Linked DNA regions of Homo sapiens: region 1 is linked to region 2. The links come from fine-mapping of genetic effects on gene expression. A gene starts in region 2. The other region holds a variant in brackets. All regions are shown on one strand. Distances are from middle to middle. Region 1 has its middle 20 kb from the start of MIR4294. Region 2 holds the start of VSTM4 (V-set and transmembrane domain containing 4).

Region 1 (5,384 bases), 110 kb before region 2:
GACTTCGTGCTCCTGAAAGGCGAGGAATGGCAATGACAGCAGCCCGGGCACATGAGGGGTTTTCACAAAGCTCGTAGAAAATGCTTATGATGAAAAAACTATGATGCATTTCAAATTTTTTGCATCATAATAAAGTCATAATAACTCATTATAACATTTTTGAACAGCATCTAGTTTGAGACACTAAGAAGGATCAGACATCAGTTTGAAAACCACTGCTCAATGAAATAAAAGAGGATACAAACAAATGGAAGAACATTCCATGCTCATGGGTAGGAAGAATCAATATCATGAAAATGGCCACACTGCCCAAGGTGATTTATAGATTCAATGACATCCCCATCAAGCTACCAATGACTTTCTTCACAGAATTGGAAAAAGCTACTTTTAAGTTCATATAGCACCAAAAAAGAGCCTGCATTGCCAAGTCAATCCTAAGCCAAAAGAACAAAGCTGGAGGCATCACGCTACCTGACTTCAAACTATACTACAAGGCTACAGTAACCAAAACAGCATGGTACTGGTACCAAAACAGAGATATAGATCAATGGAACAGAACAGAGCCCTCAGAAATAATGCCACATATCTACAACTATCTGATCTTTGACAAACCTGAGAAAAACAAGCAATGGGAAAACGATTCCCTATTTAATAAATGGTGCTGGGAAAACTGGTTAGCCATATGCAGAAAGCTGAAACTGGATCCCTTCCTTATACCTTATACAAAAATTAATTCAAGATGGATTAAAGACTTAAATGTTAGACCTAAAACCATAAAAACCCTAGAAGAAAATCTAGGCATTACCATTCAGGACTTAGGCATGGGCAAGGACTTCATGGCTAAAACACCAAAAGCAATGGCAACAAAAGCCAAAATTGACAAATGGGATCTAATTAAACTAAAGAGCTTCTGCACAGCAAAAGAAACTACCATCAGAGTGAACAGGCAACCTACAAAATGGGAGAAAATTTTTGCAACCGACTCATCTGACAAAGGGCTAATATCCAGAATCTACAATGAACTCAAACAAATTTACAAGAAAAAAACAAACAACCCCATCAAAAAGTGGGCAAATGACATGAACAGACACTTCTCAAAAGAAGACATTTATGCAGCCAAAAAACACATGAAAAAATGCTCACCATCACTGGCCATCAGAGAAATGCAAATCAAAACCACAATGAGATATCATCTCACACCAGTTAGAATGGCAATCATTAAAAAGTCAGGAAACAACAGGTGCTGGAGAGGATGTGGAGGAATAGGAACACTTTTACACTGTTGGTGGGACTGTAAACTAGTTGAACCATTGTGGAAGTCAGTGTGGCGATTCCTCAGGGATCTAGAACTAGAAATACCATTTGACCCAGCCATCCCATTACTGGCTATATACCCAAAGGACTATAAATCATGCTGCCATAAAGACACATGCACACGTATGTTTATTGCGGCACTATTCACAATAGCAAAGACTTGGAACCAACCCAAATGTCCAACAATGATAGACTGGATTAAGAAAATGTGGCACATATACACCATGGAATACTATGCAGCCATAAAAAATGATGTTTTTCTGTATGTTCTTTGATTGCTCCTTTGTGTGACAACAATTTTATTATACAACCTCAAATAGAAAGATAATTCAGTCTTTAAAAAAAAAGAAAAAAAAATCCCTTTGAGAACAACATGAATTTTGCTAAAATTGAAGTAAGAACAAACATCAAATTTATTGTGAGGTTTGGGTAAAAGAATGGTGATATTATCAATGCTTTAACAAAAGTTTATGAGGACAGTGTCCCAAGGAAATCAGCAGTTAACAAATGAATAACTCGTGTTGAGAAGGGATGAAACGATGTTGAGGATGAAGCCTGCAGCAGGAGACCATCCACGTCAGTTTGTGAGGAAAAAAATTCATCTCGTTTGGGCCCTCGTTGAAGAGGACCAATGATTAACAGCAGAAACAAGAGCCAACATCATAGACATCTCCACTGGCTCAGCTAATACAACTCTGAGAAAAATTAAAATTGAGCACACTCCACTCCATGGTGTCAAAACCATTGTGATCAGCAGACAAGAACAGAGTTTTCAATGAACATTTTAAACAAGTGCGATCAAGATCCTGAAGCATTTCTTTGAAGAATCGTAACAGGATATGAAACATGACCTTACCAGTATGATCCTGAAGACAAAGCATGATCAAAACAACACCTACCAAGAGGTGGAAGTGGACCAGTCACAGCAACAGTGGACGGGTCAAGAGGAAAGGTCATGGCAACTGTTCTGCGGGTTGCTCAAGGCATTTTGCTTGTTGACTTTCTAGAGGGCCAAAGAACAATAACATCTGCTGATTATGAGAGTGTTGAGAAAGTTAGACAAAACTTTGGCAGAAAAACACCCGGGAAAGCTTCCCAGAGAGTCCTTTGCCACCATGGCAGGGCTCCTGCTCATTCCTCTCATCAAACAAGAGCAATTTTCTGACAGCTTTGATGGAAATCATTAGGCATCCACCTTACAGCCACGATTGGGCTCCTTCTGACTTCTTTTTCTTTCCTAATCTTAAAACATATGTAAAGAGCATCCATTTTTCTTCATTTAATAAGGTAAAAGACTGCACTGACATGGTTAAGCTCTTGGGATCTTCAGTTCTTTAGGCTGATTAAATGGCTGGTATCACCATTTACAAAAGTGTCTTGATGTTGATGGAGTTTATGTTGAAAAATAAAGTGTGTATATATATATATATATATATATATATATATATATATATATATAAAAATTCAATTTTCTCATAAACTTTTTGAAGTCCCCTTGCATTTATAGGGCACTGGGTCTATGAGAGGCCATGTGCTGTTTATGATGAAATGACTCTTAGGAAACATGCACCCTTTGAAAGCAGGGACTCAAACAGGTCCTTACACACCCATGTTCATAACCTCACTATTCACAACAGCCAAAAGCAGAAACAACCCAAATGTCCATCCACAAATAAATGGATGCGCAAAATGTGGTTGTACATCCAATGGAATATTATTCAGCCTTATACAGGAAGGAAATTCTGA[T/C]GCATGCTACAACATGGATGAACCTGGAGGACATTATTCTAACTGAAATAATAAGCCAGGCACAAAAAGATAAACCCCATATTGATTTCGCTACAATGAGGCACTTAGAATAGGCAAATGTATAGAAATAAAACCATTCTATTGTAAAGATACATACACGTGTATGTTCATTGCAGCACTATTCACAATAGCAAAGACATGGAATCAACCCAAATGCCCATCAATGATAAACTAGATAAAGAAAATGTGGCACATATACGCCATGGAATACTATGCAGCCATAAAAAGGAATGAGACCATGTCTTTTGCAGGGATATGGATGAAGCTGGAAGCCATTATCCTCAGCAAACTAACACAGGAACAGAAAACCAAACACCACATGTTCTCACTCATAAGTGGGAGTTGAACAATGAGAACACATGGACACAGGGAAGAGAACACACAACGAGGCCTGTCAGTGGGGCACGGGAGGGAGAGCATCAGGATAAATAGCTAATGCATGCGGGGCCTAATACCTAGGTGATGGGTTGACAGGTGCAGCAAAGCACCATGGCACATGTTTACCTGTATAACGAACCTGCACATCCTGCACATGTATCCCAGAACTTAAAATAAAATATTTTTTTAAAAAAAAGAAACAGAAAGCAGAGTGGTGGTTCCTAGAAGCTGGTGAGTAGAGGGGGATGAGGAGTTATTAATGGGGACAGTTTCAGTTTGGGATGATGGAGAAATTCTGGGATGGATGGCAGAGGTGGTTGAACAGCAATGTGATGCATTTAATGCCACTGAACTGTACACTTGAAAACAGTTAAAATGGTAAATGTTATGTAAGTTTTACCACAATCAAACAAACAAAAAATAAAAACAGGGAAACATGTATCCTAGTGGGGGCAACCCGGCAGGGGCACATGCAGTGTACTGGAGCGCTCAGAGGGTGGATGCAAGGTCATCTGTTCTGCATGGGTCTGACTTGGCCTTGTGCATGTTTAAAAGCTCCACTTCTCTCTGTTTCGAGATGTCAGTGTGTGAGCTGCAGAGTCACACAGTTACTCAGAAGAAAACACAGAGCCTGTCTGAACATCACAGATTGCAGGGCAGACAGTGATGTGGTGTCACTGGAGGATGAAAGGCAACTTGATATGGATGAAGAGCATGAGGGGGTAAGCCTGTCTGGGTATAAGGAGGCAGCAGGAGACGCCCCTGCCTTCGTTAAATAGCTAGGAAGTCCTAGAATGGGCTGAAATTAGACCAACTCCTGGTCCTTCCTCGGAGAGAGTACTTAAAATATGTATGTGTTGAATTCAGGGGAAAAATACAATATACCAGGAACACACTTTGCAAACTATAAGCAGCTTACAAACATAAGTGGCTCTCACAACCTTGCTCCAGAGCTGGGATGAAATAAAATTTTGTCTTTTGCTTTTTAAAAATCAGTTCAAGCCTGTACACAGTAGCCTGAAACTATCTAGATACTGAGGCCAGGCTTCTTCTTAGGAAGTTGAGGACATTTCCTCCAGACCCAAGATCTTAGCTGTGGTTTTCTGACTGGGGTGCCTCTATTTATTTATTCTTTTTTTTTTCTTTTCCTGAGACAGGGTGTCACTCTGTTGCCCAGGCTGGAGTGCAGTGGCGTGATCTTGGCCCACTGCAACCTCCACCTCCTGGGTTCAAGCAATTCTCCTGCCTCAACCTCCCGAGTAGCTGGGACTACAGGAGCATGCCACCATGCCCGGCTAATTTTTTTATTTTTAGTAGAGATGGGGTTTCACCATATTGGTCAGGCTGGTCTTGAACTCCTGACCTCAGGTGATCCACCCACCTCGGCCTCCCAAAGTGCTGACATTACAGGCATGAGGCACCACGCCTGGCCTGGGGTGCCTTTAGATGCTGCTGGGGAGAGCTGAACTGAGTGTGTGGGACTAGCCCTGAGCTGGCTCCCTGGTCCACACTGGTCCAGTGTTTCTCTGTACAAATGTGCCAGCTCTTTCTTGTTTTACAGAGAAGGAGCCTCTGCAGGGCCCCAAGGTGTGAACACTCAGAATTCCCATCAAGGCCACCCTGGCCCCACCACAGCAGAGGGTGCTGCCAGCCACCTCAGCCATGTCCCCACCCCCAGACAAGCGTGTTATTTCAGGCTGGTCTTTGATGGAAACTGGCAGAGGGGGCTGCCAACAGGATAAACATAGCAGTGCTTTTTTTTTTTTTTTTTTTCTGAGTTGTGGAAGCTCTGGACAATGTTGTGGTTTGGGGTAGAGAATTTGGATGCCTTTAGTTAGAAACAAAATCTATAGGGAAAAAAAAGGAAATCCCTGCCTTGCGGGTTG
Region 2 (5,384 bases):
CTAACAGAACAAGGCAGCAGCCTCATCTGGGATGCAGAGGTGGGCACAGTCCCTCGGTTCTGAGCAGGCCAGGGATGTGCTCGTAGCTGTGTGCCTCCCACTTCCTCTCTGCCTGAAGAAACTGCACCTGCTCACTTCAGGGAGACCAGAGCCTCTAAGTTTATAAGGAATGCAAACTGTCAGTACTGATCAGCAGCAGTGAGCTTTCTTATTAAAAGAATAGTCTGAATTCATACAGCTAAATCTCTGAAAGAAATAGTTATATTACTTAACAGTCTTTGGCACCAGGAGCCAGTATTTACTGAGCACTAAGCAGAGGTGATGCCAGACCTAGCCCATGGACTGATTCACTCACATTAGCCTATCACCTGAAAATAGCTCCATCCAGGATAAAAATATCACCTTGCCCAATGATAGAGGCTAATACCTGCCGGGTACAAACTCTATGCCCTTTAGATGTATTTTCTCAATTTATCCTGATACTCTGTTTATTCCCATTTTATAGACAAGAGGACTGAGGTACAGAGAGGCTAAGCCCTTGTTCAAGCTCACATAGTAAGTGGCAGAGCTGGAATTCGAACCTAGGCCATCTTGCTTCAAAGACAGCTCAGCCACCTCTCAAGCCTACAGATTTGCTATCGTAAATATATTGTCTGTCAGTTTTCTTTCCTGTAAAATGAGACATGGGACCAGGTGACCACTAGGGTCCTGGTCAGTCCCAAAATGGAGAGGCAGAAAAGTACAGCAGTTAAGAAGCTGTACTTATGTATAAAATGGGTCTGCCAGCCCCTCCCAGCAGGATCGTGGTGAGGAGTCATGAATGAGGCACTTAGAAAAGTGGGTGGCACACAGTGAGTGTCCCACAAGCAGGAGCTCTTATCATCCTCCAGGGCTGACCATGGGCACAGCCAGGGCAGACTCTAAAGGCTCCTGAATTCCAGCTCTCAAGGCTCCCGAGGGCTCTGGAAATGTGAGAATGCCCTTGATCCCCAGCAAAAGACAATCTCTGGGACACCCACTCTGACAGCTCCTGCAATTAGAAGGTGGTCATGGAGCCTGGGAGAGGAAGGACCACTGGCTGCTGGCTACTCCACAGAGACCACGAGAACTGGCCCTGCCCACCAGTCCAAGGCAAACTTCTCATCATTTTTCCAGCCGAGACAGTGACAACTGGGAAAAGGTACATTTCCCGCAGCAAGGATTTCAGGTTCACTGGGAACCTGGCTGCACTCATAGCTGGGGGACAGTAGATGGATTTCTTCCCACTGTTATCCAAGTGCCTCCTCCTCAGACTGGGATCTATGGATTAATGCTGGCTCAAATGCCAGCTCTACACTTGGTAGCCAGATCACTCTTGGAAAATGACTTCTGAGCATCAGTTTCCTAATTTTCAAAACAATGGCAACACAGTTTAGTGGTTATTGACAGAGCCCAGAGCCAGGCTAACTGGGTTCAAATCCCAGCTCCACCACTTACAAGCCTACTGAATTAAGGCAAGTCCGTTCATGGGCCTGAGCCTCAGTTTCCTCATCTATAAAATAGGGATAATAATAGCACCTCCTTCAGAGGTTATTGGTGAGATTAACCAAGTTCATGTTTTTTTTTTTTAATACTTGGATATATAAACGTGTTGTAGTCATTATTACTTGGAAGTGTTGTAATTAAATGAGATAGGCCCAGATAGGCACCCAGGGAAAGTGACCATCGATACCTGTATTATTACTATTATTCCAGCCAGTACGGCCCCTGCTGCCCTGAGGCAGCCAGACAGAGTTCTGGGGAATAAAGAGGGAAAATTCTTAAGACACTTACAAGTGGGAGCAGTAAAACCCGAATGAAAGCCATTAGTGTGGACCAAGAAGTTGTCCTCAAAGCAGGGTGCTGGTGGAGAGGCGTCGCTGCATCCAGCCGTGGATGCCCCTCTCACCAGGCCTGGTCACCTCAAAAGGCCCACGATCAAGTCCCCGTTCCCCACCTCCTGGCCAAGGCAGATCCAGCCGCTCCTGACTTGTCTTCGGAGTAACTCTCCGAAGAGAGTGAAAGGGAAGTTGCTGCTCCGAGGAATCTGCCAAGAGCTGTGTGTCCTGACTGCCGTGGAAAAAAGGAAAGCGAACCACCAACTTGGGCTGCGCTCCTGCTGCATCTCCCCTCGGGGCCTGCCGCTGGGAAGATCTCGGCTGCTGCGAGAGTACCCAGCCCCAGGCGAGGTCGGGACGGGGACCGCGCTCACGGGAGGCGTCCTCTGAACCTTGGGGAGGCGCCGCTGCGCCCGCCAGACCCTCGGCGAGCCCACCGGAGCGCGCTGGCGACAGTGACAGCGCCGCCCCCCGCCCGCGCCCGGAGGTGGCAGGGCCTCCCCACCAGGCCCGGAGCCCCGGCCTCCCCGGCGCGGCCGCCCGGCCCCCACCCTTCCCGCTCCCGCCTGGCCCCGCCGCGCTTACCCGGAGCCGGAGCCCGCGCCAGCAGCGCGGCCGCCGCCAGTGCCAGCAGCCGCATCTCCCCGCCGCCGCCCGGCGCTGTGACGCGGGAGAGCGCCGCCGCCTGGCCCGGCCGCCGCCAGCCCGCCCCGGGCCCGCGCTCGCGCCCGCCCCCGGCCCGCCCCTTGGGCCGCCTGCCACGCGGGGCCGGGGCTGCTGGGTCCCGAGGCCCGCACCGGGCGCGGGAGCCGCCGCGCGATCGGTTCGCTCCAGGATCTGTGGCGTCTCCTTTCAACAGCCCCATTTCCCAGATGAGAAAACTGAGTTTCTGCAAGGTGATCGCTGGTGACTCACAGAACACACAGCTGCAGTGCGACCGGCGGTCCTCTGCCCACAGATGCACTTATTCCTAAGGGAAGGCGGGATCTGGGAGCCAGGGGGTGGGGGCGCGTCCAGGGAACCTCTGGCCTGAGACTCACCTGCTGGTCGTGGGCCTCCTGCGCTCACTCCACAGGACCCTCGGGAGCCAACAAGCAGCTGAGGGGGGAGAAGCCCCTTCTGCTGCCCTGAAATGGAGGGCGGGGTCCGAGGTGCTAACCCTTGGAAAACTGAGAGGGTCCACACAGACCAGCCCAGAATATGTGGAAACTATTAACAAAAGTGCCCATTTACAGTGCCTCAGCCAGGCCTGGGCTAAAGTGATTTTCCAGATGCTACTGAACCCCGCCGCGGTCAGGCCTGGGACAGTTCTGTAATCTCCATGTGCCTCAGTTTCCTGCACCTGTAAAATGGGGAAATGGGCCCACCCCTTCTGGGGTGTTTAGGAAGACCAAGTTACACCATTCCCATTAACGCATTGCCCCAGCACCCGATTCACGGGTGTCAGTGAACACTACTATTATTACTATACATAAGGAAGCAGAAGCAGCCACATGAAAGAGACCCATGTCACACAACCACAGAGCCCTGTCACTCTGAGCCAATGCCTGGTCTCTTTGCCACTGTTCTAAACTTAGGGTCTGAGCCTAACCCATCTCCAAGCAAGAAAAGCACATGTTAGGTCTATTCTGTGTGTGTCTATCAGGAGAGGTCTTTGTGGAGTTCCAGTGAGGGGTAGCAGCAGCTAGCAGGTGGGCCCTGGTTGGGAGTGGGTCCCTGTAGGAGGAGGAGGAGACAGGGCCCTCATCTCCTTCCCTCTAAGGGAGTGAGGAGGTGTGGGTGGCATGGAAAGAGGGTGCAGCCCACTAGTGTGAGCCCCAGGGCATTCCCCAGAGGGACCATCCTCTTCAGGCACCCCAGGCCAGTGGGTGCAAAGGCTCTGTGACATCTCTGAACCCCAGGCACTTCCAGAGGTCTCTGGACCCCATGGGATCCTCCAGCTAGGAGACTCATCTGTGGACCAGGGCCCTGCAGGGACTGGACTGACCATCAAGGCAGCCAGGCTGGAGAAAGCAGCCCCATCTATAATTTGGGTTGGTGGAAGGGCCTGAGGACCCGATAGTGAGTTGGCAACAAAGGTACTTGGCTATGATGCCAAGGACAAGAAGTGAGGACTAGAACTGGGGTCAGATGGACTCCTGCAGCCCAGGAATGCAAACTAGAACCAAGTGAGGCTTCCAGACCAGAGTTTGGAAACCAATTTTATACATGAGCAAACGAGCCTCACGTCCCATCCACATAATGTCCTAGGCCTCATTTTACAAATTAGTAAATTCAGGCTCAAAGAAGACCAGGGACCCGTACAAGGTTCTGTGGGGCACCAAATGTCTGAACTGGGAACTTGGACTCTGACTGCAGACTGTTGACTCAGCCCTGGAGCCTGGGGCAGTGTTTGGCAGACTGAGGGAGGATGTCTGAAGAGGAGCACTGGTTCTGAAAGTGGATCTGTGACCCGCTCTGGCTGGGCAACAACCTTGGGTCCTGGAGCAGCACAACCTCTCTGAATTTCATTTGTCAAGTGAAGGTGACACATGTAAAATGGCGTCTTGACATGGCTGTACTAAGAGCAGCTAGAGATGTGGCAGGGCCATTTGGTATCCTTGGTAACCTCCCACCTCAACCTGCTGGTCTCAATTTACTCTCCCAGTTGGTGAAAAGCAGAAGGGACCCCTTAGATGTGTCAGCCACCCTTGGAGGAGGCAACTCCTGCTTTGGTCGTTGTATATTGCTAAATATCCAACTCTCATTGCAAAACAGAGCAGAAATTCAGCCTGCCACCCTTGACTTGCTTCGTCTTTACCAAACTGGGGTTGTGCCAAAGATTTGAGGCTAGAAAGTGCTTTTCTTGTACTTTTCTGCTACAGGTAACATTGTGCTGATTTTACAGCTGTGTGCACTGCTGGTACTTTTCAGCTTCCCATATAATCTAACTGATCATCCTGGTAAAACCTTTGCTGCATGAACACAGGAACAAGGGAATATACTCAGCCCTCATGGGAGACAGAGCCAGTGACCCGGATAAGACTTGGCCTTTCAGCTCTTCTGGACTACATTGGCAAAGGCCTTCCAAATGGTTTTCTTAGCTCTGCTGCCTGCTCACTCATTCACAAGCTTAGGACCATTTGAAAATCCTTCACAGGCTTCTTTGTCCATACCTTGGCTCTATCAGGTCTTACTTTGTACTGAATTGGAAGAATAATACAATCCAATTCTATTTTTTGTTTACCTCATAAGAAGAGGGTGTTCAAACCATTCTAAAGTTGATCCAGATTCCTGTGGACACTAAGCTATATGGAGAGCCTACTCAACTAATCCTGTATTCTACCAGTTGCCACTGAAAGAATCTTAGAAATCCAGATTTTCTCCAACAAGTGCATTCTGCTATCACCTGGCAGGCCGGGGCTTTTCCTCTTTCATTATCCAATTGTTTGTTAGAACCTGGGTCAGAGATGGAAGAGTACAGCATGGTTTTGTAATGGACCTTGCACACAGCAAATATATCCCTAAACTAAGACCATCAAGCAAAAC

What was found. PIP is the estimated chance that this variant, and not a neighbour inherited with it, causes the effect.
Region 1: its variant is the best candidate, but not a certain one, in a credible set for the expression of VSTM4 in left ventricle (GTEx, PIP 0.63).

The regions. Positions count from the first base shown.
Region 1 is chr10:49,003,161-49,008,544 of GRCh38, forward strand. No RefSeq gene overlaps it. Among named protein-coding and RNA genes, the nearest start is that of MIR4294, 20 kb to the left of the region's middle. The variant T/C (reference allele first, on the strand shown) is at 3,061.
Region 2 is chr10:49,112,990-49,118,373 of GRCh38, forward strand. VSTM4 (V-set and transmembrane domain containing 4) reads right to left here and starts at 2,533. Exons shown (of 8, transcript NM_001031746.5): 1 at 2,442-2,533. The coding sequence starts at 2,496.